Regions from separate parts of the Homo sapiens genome. Here all the other regions are reported to be linked to region 2. Evidence: microRNA targets listed by miRTarBase, many of them from high-throughput screens and not tested one by one. Region 2 holds a microRNA gene; each other region holds the end of a gene's coding sequence.

Region 1 (4,244 bases), not on the chromosome of region 2:
CAATCTTCTGTATTCCTCAGGCCAAAGCCAGAAACCCTAAACCCCTGCCCTTCTGGAGACTCTTTCATGGTGCCCTCTGAGATTCCCTTAATAAACTCCCTTAATATCCTCAACTATTTCCCTGAACATTTCCTTTCATTAATTTAAACTTGGCTGTTCCCTGGGAAGGAAAAAACACCTACCTGACAACAATCACATCACAAGGGGGCTTATTCTCATGTATTCCACATATCCACAGGTTGGAAGTGGGATCAGTATCTTCCTTACTCCCTAACACTGCTTCTAACCATTGCAGCCTGGAGAAAACCACTCCTTCCTTTGAAGTTCATACCATCTAGTTATACCACTTTCTCCCTCTCTTCCTTGCTATCTTTTATTTAAATGACCTCTCCTCAATCACATAGACTTTGCTACTTGCTTTGCTGTCTTCTCCACTGATGGCTCTATTGATAACTTGGAAGGACTTTCAAATACATAGAGATCTTCTTCACTAAAACCTCCTTGCAGAATTTCATCCACCTTCCTCTTAGCAGATAATCTTACCATGAAACCTATAATCATATATCTATATTTTACTGGCCAGGAACAGTAGAAATGGCATCAAGGCTACAAAGAGGTTGGGATAAGTAGTTTTGTAGCTAAATACAATACTACTGTTAGCAAAACTGAAGATCTATTCATAAAGAATAAAAAATATATATATTTGGTTAGTAATTAGCAGTGGCTGCCACACAGTTCTTAGGAAACACAAAACATTATATAGTTCACATATTCTGATCACTGCTTAGTACAGTTAGGTGTAAATAAATAAACAAGTAATTTAAACCAACCCACCCATTTTTCTACTCCTGAAAGAATGGTGGGAGTATCCCTCCGCCTCATGGCAAACACCAATACTTTTGTTTGTGCTCTAAACATCTACACCCCATTCTCAGAAGCTTATATTAAACTTTATTATGCTGCATATTAAACCTCACCATACTACATTCATCACATTAGAATTCAAACATGTTCTAGTTTTTCATATTTTAAACATATTATCTCTTTACTCCAAATCTCTCCAGCTACTACCCTTTCTCCTATTATTCAAACTTGTCTACATCCAGTCTTTACTTCTTTGCCCTTTATTGATTCCTAAAGTCAGCCCAATCTAGCAACCATCTTCATTATGTACCACTATGTTATTTCCAACTACAATCACAAATGATCTTCACTTGGCTGTATATGTTTACCTTTTTAGACTTCATCTAATTGGATCCCTAAGTAACACTAAAAACATTTACCTTCACCTTCCTTTTTTTTTTTTTTTTTTTGAGATGAAGTCCTGCTCTGTCACCAGGCTGGAGTGCAGTGGTGAGATCTCATCTCACTGCAACCTCTGCCTCCCAGGTTCAAGTGATTCTTCTGCCTCAGCTCCTGAGTAGCTGGGACTACAGGCATGTGCCACCACACCCGGCTAATTTTTGTATTTTAGTAGAACCAGGGTTTCACCATGTTGGCCAGGATGGTCTCGATCTGACCTTGTGATCCGCCTGCCTCAGCCTCTCAAAGTGCCAGGATTACAGGCGTGAACCACCACACCTGGCCAACTTCACCTTCCTTTTTGAAACTTGTTTGTCTTGGTTCAGTGAAACTCCACTCTTCTTGTTTTCCTCTTATCTCTCTACTATAGTTCCTTTAAATGTATGTCTTCAGGGTAGGTGGCAGACCTTCCCTTTTCATTCTTACTCACCTTCCAAAGCCTGTTATTGTCTCTTTACTGATGTCACTACAATTTATATCTCTATCTAGACACCTCCTCAATTCTAGAATTGCGTACCAACCTCTTCATCTGGATGTCTCACCATCCTCTGAGGCTAACATGAATAACTACAACAGCAGCTACTGCCTTCTTTCTTCCACCGTATGCCACTCCTTCCATATTTTGTTAGAACTAATCTGGTCAGTATCTGCAAGATCAAGCAGCAAAATCTCATGCTTTACTTAGCATTTAAAATTGGTAACTTCCCCTCTGTCTGAAAACTTTCTGTAGTTCCAATGCTGAAATGTTGGGATACTCTTTTTGCTGTTCTAAACACTTGCTTTCAGTGATCTTGGTTCTATCTTCATCTGCTGCTTAAGCATAAAAGCTCGGTCAACATTCCTTTTCCATACTTTTTTTCTATGTTCCTCTTCAAATGTGTACATCCAACATAAAACATTTAACTGTATATACTTCTGTTTTTCTACAATATGGTGACTGCGTTGACTGTATTTATGTAGTGCTTTAAAAAAAATCAGTAAGAGCCAGGCATGGTAACTCATGCCTGGAATCCTAGCACTTTGGGAGGCAAAGGCAGGAGGACTGCTTGAGCCCAGGAGTTTCAGACCAGTCTGAGCAATGTAGGAAGAGCCTGTCTCTACAAAATATATATTTTTAAAATTAGCCAGGCATGGTGGCATGCATTTGTGATCCCAACTACTGAGGAGACTGTGGTGGATCACCTGAGCCCAGGAGGTCGAGGTTGCAATGAGCCATGACCACACCACTGCATTCTAGCCTGAGAGACAGAGACTCTGTCTGAAAAATTGAAAAAAAAAAAGAAAAAATCAATTAACATATTTTTCTTGGCCGGGCACAGTGGCTCACGCCTGTAATGCCAACACTTTGGGACGCCTAGGTGGGTGGATCACCTGAGGTCAGGAGTTTGAGACCAACCTGGCCAACATGGTGAAACCCCGTCTCTATTAAAAATACTAAAATTAGCCAGGCATGGCGGTGGTGCCTGTAATCCCAGCTACTCAGGAGGCTGAGGCAGGAGAATCACCTGAACCTGGGAGGTGGAGGTTGCAGTGAGCTGAGATTGTGCCACTGCACTCCAGCCTGGGCAACATACCGAGACTCCATCTCAAAAAACAAACAAAAAACCTTATTTTTCTCATGTAGGAACATATCCAGATACAAGTAGTGCAGGGCTGGTACAACTATTTAAAGATTTCTTTGAGGAACAGGGATCTCTTTCTTCTACTTCATCCCTTGGCTACAGCTGTCATTTTCATGATCACAAGATAGCTCTTTCAGCAGCTTCAGGAATGGCCAATTCATAGGGACAAAGATGAAGTGCAAAAAGTAGAGGACAAGATAGATAGTTCTGATCCCAGTGATATGTCTATTTTTGAATCAGCAAGAATGAATGATATGGCTACCCTTAGCTACAAGAAGTCAAAGAAGCGTTCTATAACCAGAGACCTTATTGTTCTTGGCTAAGATGGAATTCATTAGTAAGGAAAGATGAGCTCAAATGTTTGGTTGGCTGCTAGCAATACCAGTCTCACTGGGCCAGAAAACAACTTTTATAAAAACACCAACAAAGCAGTAAAATATAGTCCAGATTCTCTGAACACAATGGAATTAACCTAGAAACCAACAATAAAAAGATAACTGAAAATATACCTACCTCACATATTAAAAATACCTAATTCTAAACAGCCATGGATCAAAAAAAGTCATAATTAGTATTTACAGAAAATGTTATATTAAAAAAAGAGCCATTTGTAACCTTAAATCGTTCTTTTAGAGAACAAAGACTGAGACAAGGAGCTTGGAATCCACCTTAAGACAATGAAAACAGCAATTCCACATTCATAACACTTACAGGGTTTCTCTCTCAGTATGAATTCTCTTGTGTATAATAAGTGAAGAGCTCTGACTGAAGGCTTTTCCACATTGAATACATTCATAGGGTTTCTCTCCAGTGTGAATTCTCACATGCCTCCTAAGGGAAGAGGAAACACTGAAGGCTTTCCTACATTCCTTACATTCATAGGGTTTCTCTCCAGTGTGAGTTCTTATATGCATTCTAAGGGATGAGACCCCACTGAAAACTTTCCCACAGTCACTGCATTCATAAACATTCTCTCCGGTATGAATTTTCTTATGAACTTTAAGGTGAGAGCTCGTGTTGAAGGCTTTTCCACACTCACTGCATTCATAGAGTTTTTCTCCAGTGTGTATTCTCTTGTGCACTATAAGGTAAGAGCTTGTGCCAAAGGATTTTCCACACTGATTACATTCATAAGGTTTCTCTCCAGTGTGAGTTCTCATGTGAGCCTTAAGGGATGTTTTTTGACTGAAAGCTTTTCCACATTGATTACATTCATAGGGTTTCTCTCCAGTGTGAGTTCTTACATGTCTCCTTAAGGTTGAGGAATCATTGAACACTTTACCACATTCTTTACATTCATATTGTTTCTCACCCATGTGA
Region 2 (4,244 bases):
GTTACCTTGGCAGACACCCCCTTCCCATCCTCTAATAATGTAACTGCTTAGCTGGGAGGGGTTGACATGCCCCCAGTGGGGTTCCTTAATAATGGCACACATTGAACTGAGGTGCCAAGTAACACTACATATCTCTCCTTGATTGGAAAAGAATAATAGTGACTATACTAATGTTTGACTTATGTTATTTACTAATTCTAGGATGCAAAGCCGGAACACGAGCTGTAACCGCTGCGCCTGTCAAATCTGTCACTGCACACATCTGTACTATTCAATCAACAAAACCCGATGCTAAAAACAGAAAAGGGGGAGACGCGGGAGATCGGTCAGAGTGGTAGGAGAAGGTATAGGGAAAGGAACAGACCTTCTGAAAGGCGGGAAGGCTCTGGATAGCTTCAGGGATGAATAAGCTGAAGGCAGCTGTTCTCTTACCCTGAGGCAGAGGGCAAGGGGTAGGTAAGGAAGTATAGGGGAATTTGGCATAAACAGGCTTGTTTACTTACATTGTCCGGAAACCGACTTTGATCATCAGGGCAGGAGACTGCTCCCTGAAAGGGGGAATAATAATGTTAATTACCCACAGATTGTGTTGGCTCCAGGCTTTCATTATTTTGTCTGTACTGAATAAAAGCAAGCAGCTCCAGCTGTTCGAGACTGCTCACTCTTCAGCCATTAGTGCTGGGCATTCCTGTAGCTGCTCTTACACTGCATGCCTGTGGCTGAGTACTCCTTTCATCCGTTGCTTGGCCAGGGTCTGTGGGATGGACCCCGCAGGTAAGGGTTATCAAAAAAAAAAAAAATTCACAGGCAGATAGGAACACCATGACCATACTAAAAGGCTTTTTTCCCATTTTAGTCTTGCAAGTTTGTAAAGAAGGATATGAAGCCCCTAAGAAATCAGTGAAACACTTTTTCCCAAAACCTTTATTTCCTATGTCTTGTCTTCAGAAGTTTATCTAGAAACTCCCCAGCTAGTTTAGTATTGAGGAGGGTACCAGATGGACTATCTATGTGCTAAGAAAAGCATACCACTGCATGCAACTAAATATCTGCAATATCATTGCATATGTAGTACATGTCATGTGTTACTCCACTCTTAGAGGTTTCAATCACACCTAATTACATGTGATTGCCACTCTCCTGAGTAGGACACCACACACATACACAGCATTCCTGAAAATGGGAGCACAGCCTAAATACTTAATCACACACTTTTCAAACAACCTCTCAAATGTTTTCAGTCTGTAAGTGGCCGTTGGCATTTATGTAAATGATTCCTGAAGAACCTACATCATTTTTTATTCACTCATTCCCCCTTGAGTGTTGTCCACTCATGGTTTGGAGTTTTCACATGGCAGTTTTCAGGACTAAGAACCTTCCTGCTAGGCTCTCCTGCTAACGGGAAAAATCTCATTCGATGCCTTATTCTATTTCTTTTCCCATTGTTTTATATAAAGTATTAATGAGTAGATTGCATTCCCCAGATTCAGTAGCTACCCAGACACTACACTCTATCTCACCAATCTGTGCCTATCATCCAAAGATCTGAGTTCTTCTACCTGAGTTCCTTACTACAACTCCTCACTACAGAATAAGCAAGGACATCACACAGGATCCTGGAAGCAAAGAAGAGAGAATAATCAGTGAGTGGTAAGATGGAGAGAGTAGAATTTCTTTTATCCTCATCAAATTTTGAAGTGAAAAAAAAAATCCCATTTTACTTACCAGGAGTGATCTACAAAACAGAAATTGTGCTAGGCACCCAGACACTCTTAGAGATTTTTCAGTTTCTGGGTTTTCTTCGTCTTTTCTGGGAGCAAGGTTCTTTTTAGCATGTGTTTGCATTTTTCCAATCTGAGACACATGCTACTAGGTGACTGTGTTTCCCTGCAAAACTAAAATTAGCACACACAAAAATATGGACACAATTTTGGTGACTGGATTTCAGAGACTGAGAACTGAGAATTTAAAGTGACTGTGGCTTACAAAATTACCTGTTCCCCTATCTCCTAATCAAGAGCAACAATATACTTGTGGGTTTAAGAAGCCTCCAGAATTTCTCATCCACTCCACAAACCCAGTTTAGTGTTTCAGAGGCTAAATACTAGGCATGTGAGGTTAGAGGTCAGGGGCCTGCTACTATAGCCATTCTTCATCACAGGGTTTAGGCTCTATACCAGGTGCAGCCGGCGGAGATAATTGAGTACGTAATACTCCTCATCTCAGCTTAATCATCAGGGGGAGCTTCCACTTTGGGTGAGGCAAACCAGAACACTAGAATCCACTGCTATCACTCATCACCCTGGTTGTAAAGCAGGGGTGTCAGTGTACAAGAAGCAGGACACTGCCTTATTCTCAGCTTGGGGCAACTGCTCAGGGATTTGTCCATTGAGAGAGGCTAGCCCTAAGAGAAAAAGCATTAAAGCTTTCCTTCTCAAAAGAAAATGACTTCAGTTGTAACAGAAGACAAGAAAGGTCTCACAAATAATGTAGACTGTGGTGCCAAGTAATTAGGATGGAACTGGAATCAGGAAACAGACAGCTAATAAGAGCCTTTCTGGTAGGAGAATAGCCTTTAGAGACCTGCCCCAAAAATTATCTGCAAAGTATTTGGATAAGACTCTAAAGCAATTTTTGCCCATGGTATTCTCAAAAGCTACAAAATAATCCACCTGCAAACACTGAAGCTTATTACCTGTGTGTGATACCGCAGAGGCAGGCAGCTTAACAGAAAGAGCAGCAAAAGAACAAAGAACTCTACTAAAATCACGACAGTTTAGAGTGACTGTGTACATATCCAAAGTTATACCTTGCAAGGAACAACATTAGGTTTTCACAATAAAAAGAATATAGATTTTACTAAAACAGCACAGCCAAGTAAATCAACAAATAAAAAAATCAGACAACAACAATCCCCAGAAGCAAGATCTGCATCCAAAACTTCTATAATATATTAATAAAATATCCAGTTCTCAACTGGACATTCTCAGACATACAGAGAAAATAAAAATATAACACACAGGACAAAAGTAGATTACAGAAAATGCTGGCAACAGAGCCTAATGTTATACTTAACAACAACCTTAAAGCATCCACTGTAAGTATTTTCAAAACACTAAACAAATGGTGCTTGGAAGAGTAAAGGCAGCTATGTTGACAATGCCTCATCAAAAGAGTCTATCAATAAAGAGGTAGAAATATTTAAAGAAAAGGAATTTATGGAGTATAAAAGTAAAATAATTGAAGTGAAAAATTCACTAGAAGGACTCAGGAGAAAAAAGAATCAGTGAACTTTAAGATACCTTGAAAGTGATAATTCTATAAAAATAAAAGAATAAAATGAGTGAAGAAAATGAACAGTGCCTCAGAGAAAGGCAGAACACCAGCATGCACATCAAAATACGCATATTAAGGTAGCAGAAGTGAAAGATAGAAAGGAGCAAAAAAGTATTTTTTAAAAATGGCTGTGAATATCTAAATTTGATGAAAAACATTTTTTATTATACCTAAGAAGTGCAAAACACTACAGGTAGCATAAACAAAAGAAATCCAAGCTGAGAGACATATCTACTTTTTGGTGACAAAAAAAGAGAATATTGAAATCTACTAGAAAAAATAAACTTAATGCATACAAGGGATCCTCTACAATATATTTCGCTGACTTTTCATTAGAAACCATAGAGGCCGGAAGACACTGGAATAACATTTATAGTGCTAAAAGGAAAACAGTCAACCAAGAATCACGTACCTAAATTTAGACACTCTAAGATATGGCATTAAAATGTAAACCATAAAATAACAAATGGTGAATCATCCTTTATGAAAATACAAAAAAAAAAAAGTTTGCTCTGTACAACACATGGTTAAGGGAATGCAAAAGTAAACCACAGACTAAGAAAAAATATTTGAAAATCACATATCTGGGCCGGGGACGGTGGCTCATGCCTGTAATCCCAGCACGTTGGGAAGCCAAGGCAGGCGGATCATGAGGTCAGGAGATTGAGACCATCCTGGCCAACATGGTGAAACCCTGTCTCTACTAAAAATACAAAAAATTAGCTGGGCATGGTGGCACACGCCTGTAATCCCAGCTAGTCAGGAGGCTGAGGCAGGAGACTCACTTGAACCAGGGAGTCAGAGGCTGCAGTGAGCCGAGATCGTGCCACTGCACTCCAGCCTGGTGACAGAGTGAGACTCCGTCTCAAAAAAAAACAGAAAAAAAGAAAGAAAGAAAAAAAATCACA
Region 3 (4,244 bases), not on the chromosome of region 2:
TAGTGAGCTGATTCACACCACTGCACTCTGCCTGGCTAACAGAGTGAGACCCTGCCTCAAAAGAAAAAAATTTTTTTTTAAGTCAGCATGCAAGGCAGAGACCATTAGAAGGCTACCTTAGGGCCTTAGGAAGGCCATTGTTTGATACATGGCTCCATGAGCCATTATATCTCAGTTTCCTGAATCAAGAATCAAAATGATGATTGTGTGAGATGGCATAATGTTTACATATTCTGCAGACTATGGAGTCAAAGATATCCATACTCTGCTGGGCCGTTTACTTTGAAATTAAGTGTCTGGGTTTCTATACATTAGTATTCATTATCAGTCTGTGCTTTCTCTCTTTCCGATTATTCTTCAATAGGATATTGAAGAAACGATGAACACAGCTTTGAATGAACTCCGAGAACTGGAGAGACAGAGCACAGCAAAGCATGCCCCTGATGTGGTGCTGGATACCCTGGAGCAAGTGAAAAACTCTCCCACCCCTGCCACTTCCACGGAATCTCTCAGCCCTTTGCACAACGTTGCCCTCAGGAGCTCCGAGCCTCAGATTCGACGTAGCACGAGCTCCTCCAGTGACACAATGAGTACTTTCAAGCCTATGGTGGCACCCAGAATGGGCGTGCAGCTGAAGCCTCCAGCCCTTAGGCCAAAACCTGCTGTTCTTCCAAAAACAAATCCTACCATAGGACCTGCCCCACCTCCCCAGGGTCCAACAGACAAGTCATGCACAATGTAAAAACCAGCCAAGCAAGGCCATAAAGGGAGGTGACTTAAAAAAGAAAATGGATTAGTGACAAAAGTCACTGATCCATAACTTTCCTTAGTTTTGTGCTTATAACTGGAGATCTTTTGGCTTTTCTATGTTGTCGAATGTAATGTCTGAGACTAGCTAAATTAACACGGGCATTTGTATTTTGTAATTTTTTTAAATAACTGGACATATGTCATTTTAAGGACAATAGAAACACTTAGACTTACTTGAAAATCCAATGCTGCACCACTTGTAATGAAGGCAACACCGCTCTCCACATTGTACAGAGCTTCAGGTTTAATGTAGCCCAGCTGAGTCAGAAAGGTTGTGACCTGAAGGCAGAAGAACCCGAATGCCACACCTCATTGGAGTATAGCCAGTGTTGGTCTGTGGCACTTGGGCTGAAAGGTGATAATGGCATTGCGTGGTAGCTGACAATGAGCACCTTCGGTTCCATGTGGAGCGGGGTTTAGCTCATGCAAAAGACTTGCAATTGTCTCCATGGGACGATCCCAGTGGGACTGTCAGCCCACAGCTCGAGTGGGTTGGATGCTTGCCTCTTTCCTAACAGTTATTTCCCCGGGTCCAGCTTAAAGACTCGATGGAAGGAGGTAGAACCTCTGCTGTTACTGCTTGAACTTAACCTGGGAAAGGAGAGGAAGACACCATCTCCAAAGCTATTAATGTCACTCCTTTTGCGAGCATGATTAGGCCCCGGAGATTTCCAAGTCCCCCCATCTACACTTACAAACGATTAGAAGGGTTTAATTTTAAAGACTTTCTGGTTACACTACTCCACGAACTCCTCCAAAGATCCGTTATTCAATAACTGCCTAGAAAATGTTTCCATCTCCTCTAAATCCCTGTGTTCTCCTCTGTGGAAATGAAGGCAGCAAGAAGCACCTGAGGCCTTGGTTCATGCAGTGTTCTCTTTTGACTAAATCACCTAGGTTCCTTTAAACATGCTACAAAGCCCAGGCATGGTGGTGCACACCTGTACTCCCAGCTACTCGGGTGGTTTACACAGGAGGATGGCTTTGGGCCTAGTAGTTCGAGTCCAGCCTGGGCAGCATAGTGTGAGACCCTGTCTCTTAAAAAAAAAAAAAATGCTACAAAGTCCTGATGATCCTAAATTTGAAATCCCAACTGTCCTCTCCATTTGTCTTTGAGCCAACCCTGAACTGGCCCTGGTACCTGAGTAAGAGCCATGCAGGGCCATCAGCAGAACATGGCCTTGTGGTTCTCACCCAGTTGTGTACCTCACAACCACAACTTCTTTTTCTTTGTCCCTTTTCCCCTTTTTGGTTTTGGTTTTGTATGTGGGCTCTATGTAACTCCCATAGTCAGCTGAACTCTCAATTGGAGACCCTCTTTCTCTGGCATCCTAGCACACAGGCAATTTTTTAAGCCTATATTTATGCTACATTTTCCCCCATCTTAAGAAAATTTGCTTTGATTTCCATTCTCCTACTAGCAGCAGCTGATATCACCTGTAGACCTATGAGCATTTTATCTATTCTATCATTGAAGTTACTGATAAAGATTTTTGTTGTTGTTGTTGTTGTTGGGAGAAATGGATTTCCCACAACTAATCCCTCTGGCCCACCATTAATTTCCTTCTTGGTTTCATTTCAAACTGGCAGCCAATTGCACGCCCATCTAAGAGCTACACAGTGTAGATTTTACTTCATCAGCCCATTGGTGAATGCATCGTGCAGAAAAGAACTGGGATCTGTACTAAAATCAAGATCATTACTTTGATCTCTACCTCAGTTTGCCAGTGTAGTCATTCTATTGCAGGAAGAGATTAAATTGATGAGATATTGTTACTTTCAGAGTCACACTGCTGATTGCTTGCCTGGGGCCTAATTTCACAAATGAATAGTGACTTTTTTCCCATGTATTTCTAGGTATGGTAAACTTTTAAACCTCCAAATTTTCAGAGCCATACTTTTTGCCCATTTTGAAAAAGAAGCCCAGGACAGCACCTTGTCTAGCCCCTCCCCATTTCTCCTGAGCTTTTGGGGTCCTTCAGCACCCTTGGACACCGTGGAGATCCAGCCAAGACTGAGCTTTGAATAGCACTAGCCCTTTTAAACAATCCTCACAAATTCCTTAGGAATTTAAACTTTCCAAAATAATCCCCCACTTTTTTTTTTTTTTTTTTTTTTTTTTGAGTTGGAGTCTTGCTCTGTCGCCCAGGCCAGAGTACAGTGGTGCAATCTCGGCTCCCTGCAACCTCCATCTCCCGGGTTCAAGCAATTCTCCTGAGTAGCTGGGATTACAGGCGCCACCACCACGCCCAGCTAATTTTTGTATTTTTAGTAGAGATGGGGTGTCACCATGTTGGCCAGGCTGGTCTCAAACTCCTGACCTCAGGTGACCCACCAGCCTCAGCCTCCCAAAGTGCTGGGATTACAGATGTGAGCCACCATGCCCGGCCATTCCACCACTTCTTTAAAATAGTAAGAATTCTTAAAAACCATATTCCTTGTTTGATGGAAGAGTAAGATGTTAACAGAGGGCATCAAAGGGCCAGAGGTGTCTTTGAATTTATTTTTTTTCAATGTCTTTTCTGAGCTTCAGCCTTAGCTTTTCAGATCTTCCTCCTACCTGTTCATTTATTCAGCCTTCTATCTGGTCATCCTCCCCAGCGGCTCCTCTCTCTGATGTGTCCACCTACGGTGGAACGAGGATTGCCTTTCTGTGCTCCCCATCAGGACTTTGCTGTCTTGGCCGGCAGGAGTCGTGCTGCTGCAGAGCCTCACAGGCTGTGCCTTGTTTCAGGAAACAGCTCCTAATACTCTCCCATCACTCACTTTACCTGTCTCCATCTTATTTCCCTATACTCCTATTGTCAGCTTGAGACTTTTTTTTTTTTTCAATTCCAAATGAAGGGTATGACCTCAGAGTGAGTGAGGACTCAGTAAAGACTCACCTCTCCTTACTTGGTTTATTAAATGTCTTCAGATTCCAGAGATAAGACAAGGTGGCCACTTCACAAAGAATCCAGAATCATGCTCAGTAAAGCTCATTAAAAGCCACTGCAGCTGAGAAGGTTCACAGCCCTTCTTTATAGCCACAGAGGCAGCACACAGGGGAGGTGGGAAGACACAGGGAAACGAGAGAAGAAGGATAATGAGGCCTTGAGGTGTTCTGCCCCCAATTTCAAGGAGCTTATCAGGCTTCATGTGCAATTTGGGGAGGGGAGCTTTTTGATGGTGGGTAAATAATGGCTCTACAAAGATTACCTGACTCCACTGACACAAGAATATGTATTCTCAGCTGATATAACTGTGTGTTCACATCCCATCCATAGAACTCACTGAAGGAGATTCATCAAGTCAGCCTTTTGGACTGGGTTGGGGTTTGGGGAGTGGATTTGGGGATAGAGAGAAAGGTGTACTTAGTACACATTTTCTAATGGGCGTTACGTGAACTGTTTGAACCTGCTGAGTGGCGCTTTGTAGAGCTCCATGTTCACGTT

What was found. Region 2 holds the annotated microRNA hsa-miR-510-5p (UACUCAGGAGAGUGGCAAUCAC, at 1,126-1,147, opposite strand). A microRNA usually pairs through its seed, bases 2 to 8, with sites in the 3' UTR of a target mRNA and lowers its output. Matches are read on the target gene's strand: a 7mer-m8 pairs with bases 2 to 8, a 7mer-A1 pairs with bases 2 to 7 and ends in A, and an 8mer does both.
Region 1: the mRNA of ZNF891 is a reported target of hsa-miR-510-5p. Seed matches in the 3' UTR shown: 8mer at 2,779-2,786.
Region 3: miRTarBase lists SRGAP1 as a target of hsa-miR-510-5p. Seed matches in the 3' UTR shown: 8mer at 1,951-1,958 and 8mer at 3,024-3,031.

The regions. Positions count from the first base shown.
Region 1 is chr12:133,116,653-133,120,896 of GRCh38, forward strand. ZNF891 (zinc finger protein 891) reads right to left here. Exons shown (of 2, transcript NM_001277291.2): 2 at 1-4,244. The coding sequence ends at 3,632. Among named protein-coding and RNA genes, the nearest start is that of ZNF891, 11 kb to the right of the region's middle.
Region 2 is chrX:147,271,253-147,275,496 of GRCh38, forward strand. MIR510 (microRNA 510) reads right to left here and starts at 1,156; the gene lies at 1,083-1,156. LOC105373347 (periphilin-1) reads left to right here. Exons shown (of 4, transcript XR_005647084.2): 4 at 1-643.
Region 3 is chr12:64,141,931-64,146,174 of GRCh38, forward strand. SRGAP1 (SLIT-ROBO Rho GTPase activating protein 1) reads left to right here. Exons shown (of 22, transcript NM_020762.4): 22 at 365-4,244. The coding sequence ends at 742. Among named protein-coding and RNA genes, the nearest start is that of KICS2, 78 kb to the right of the region's middle.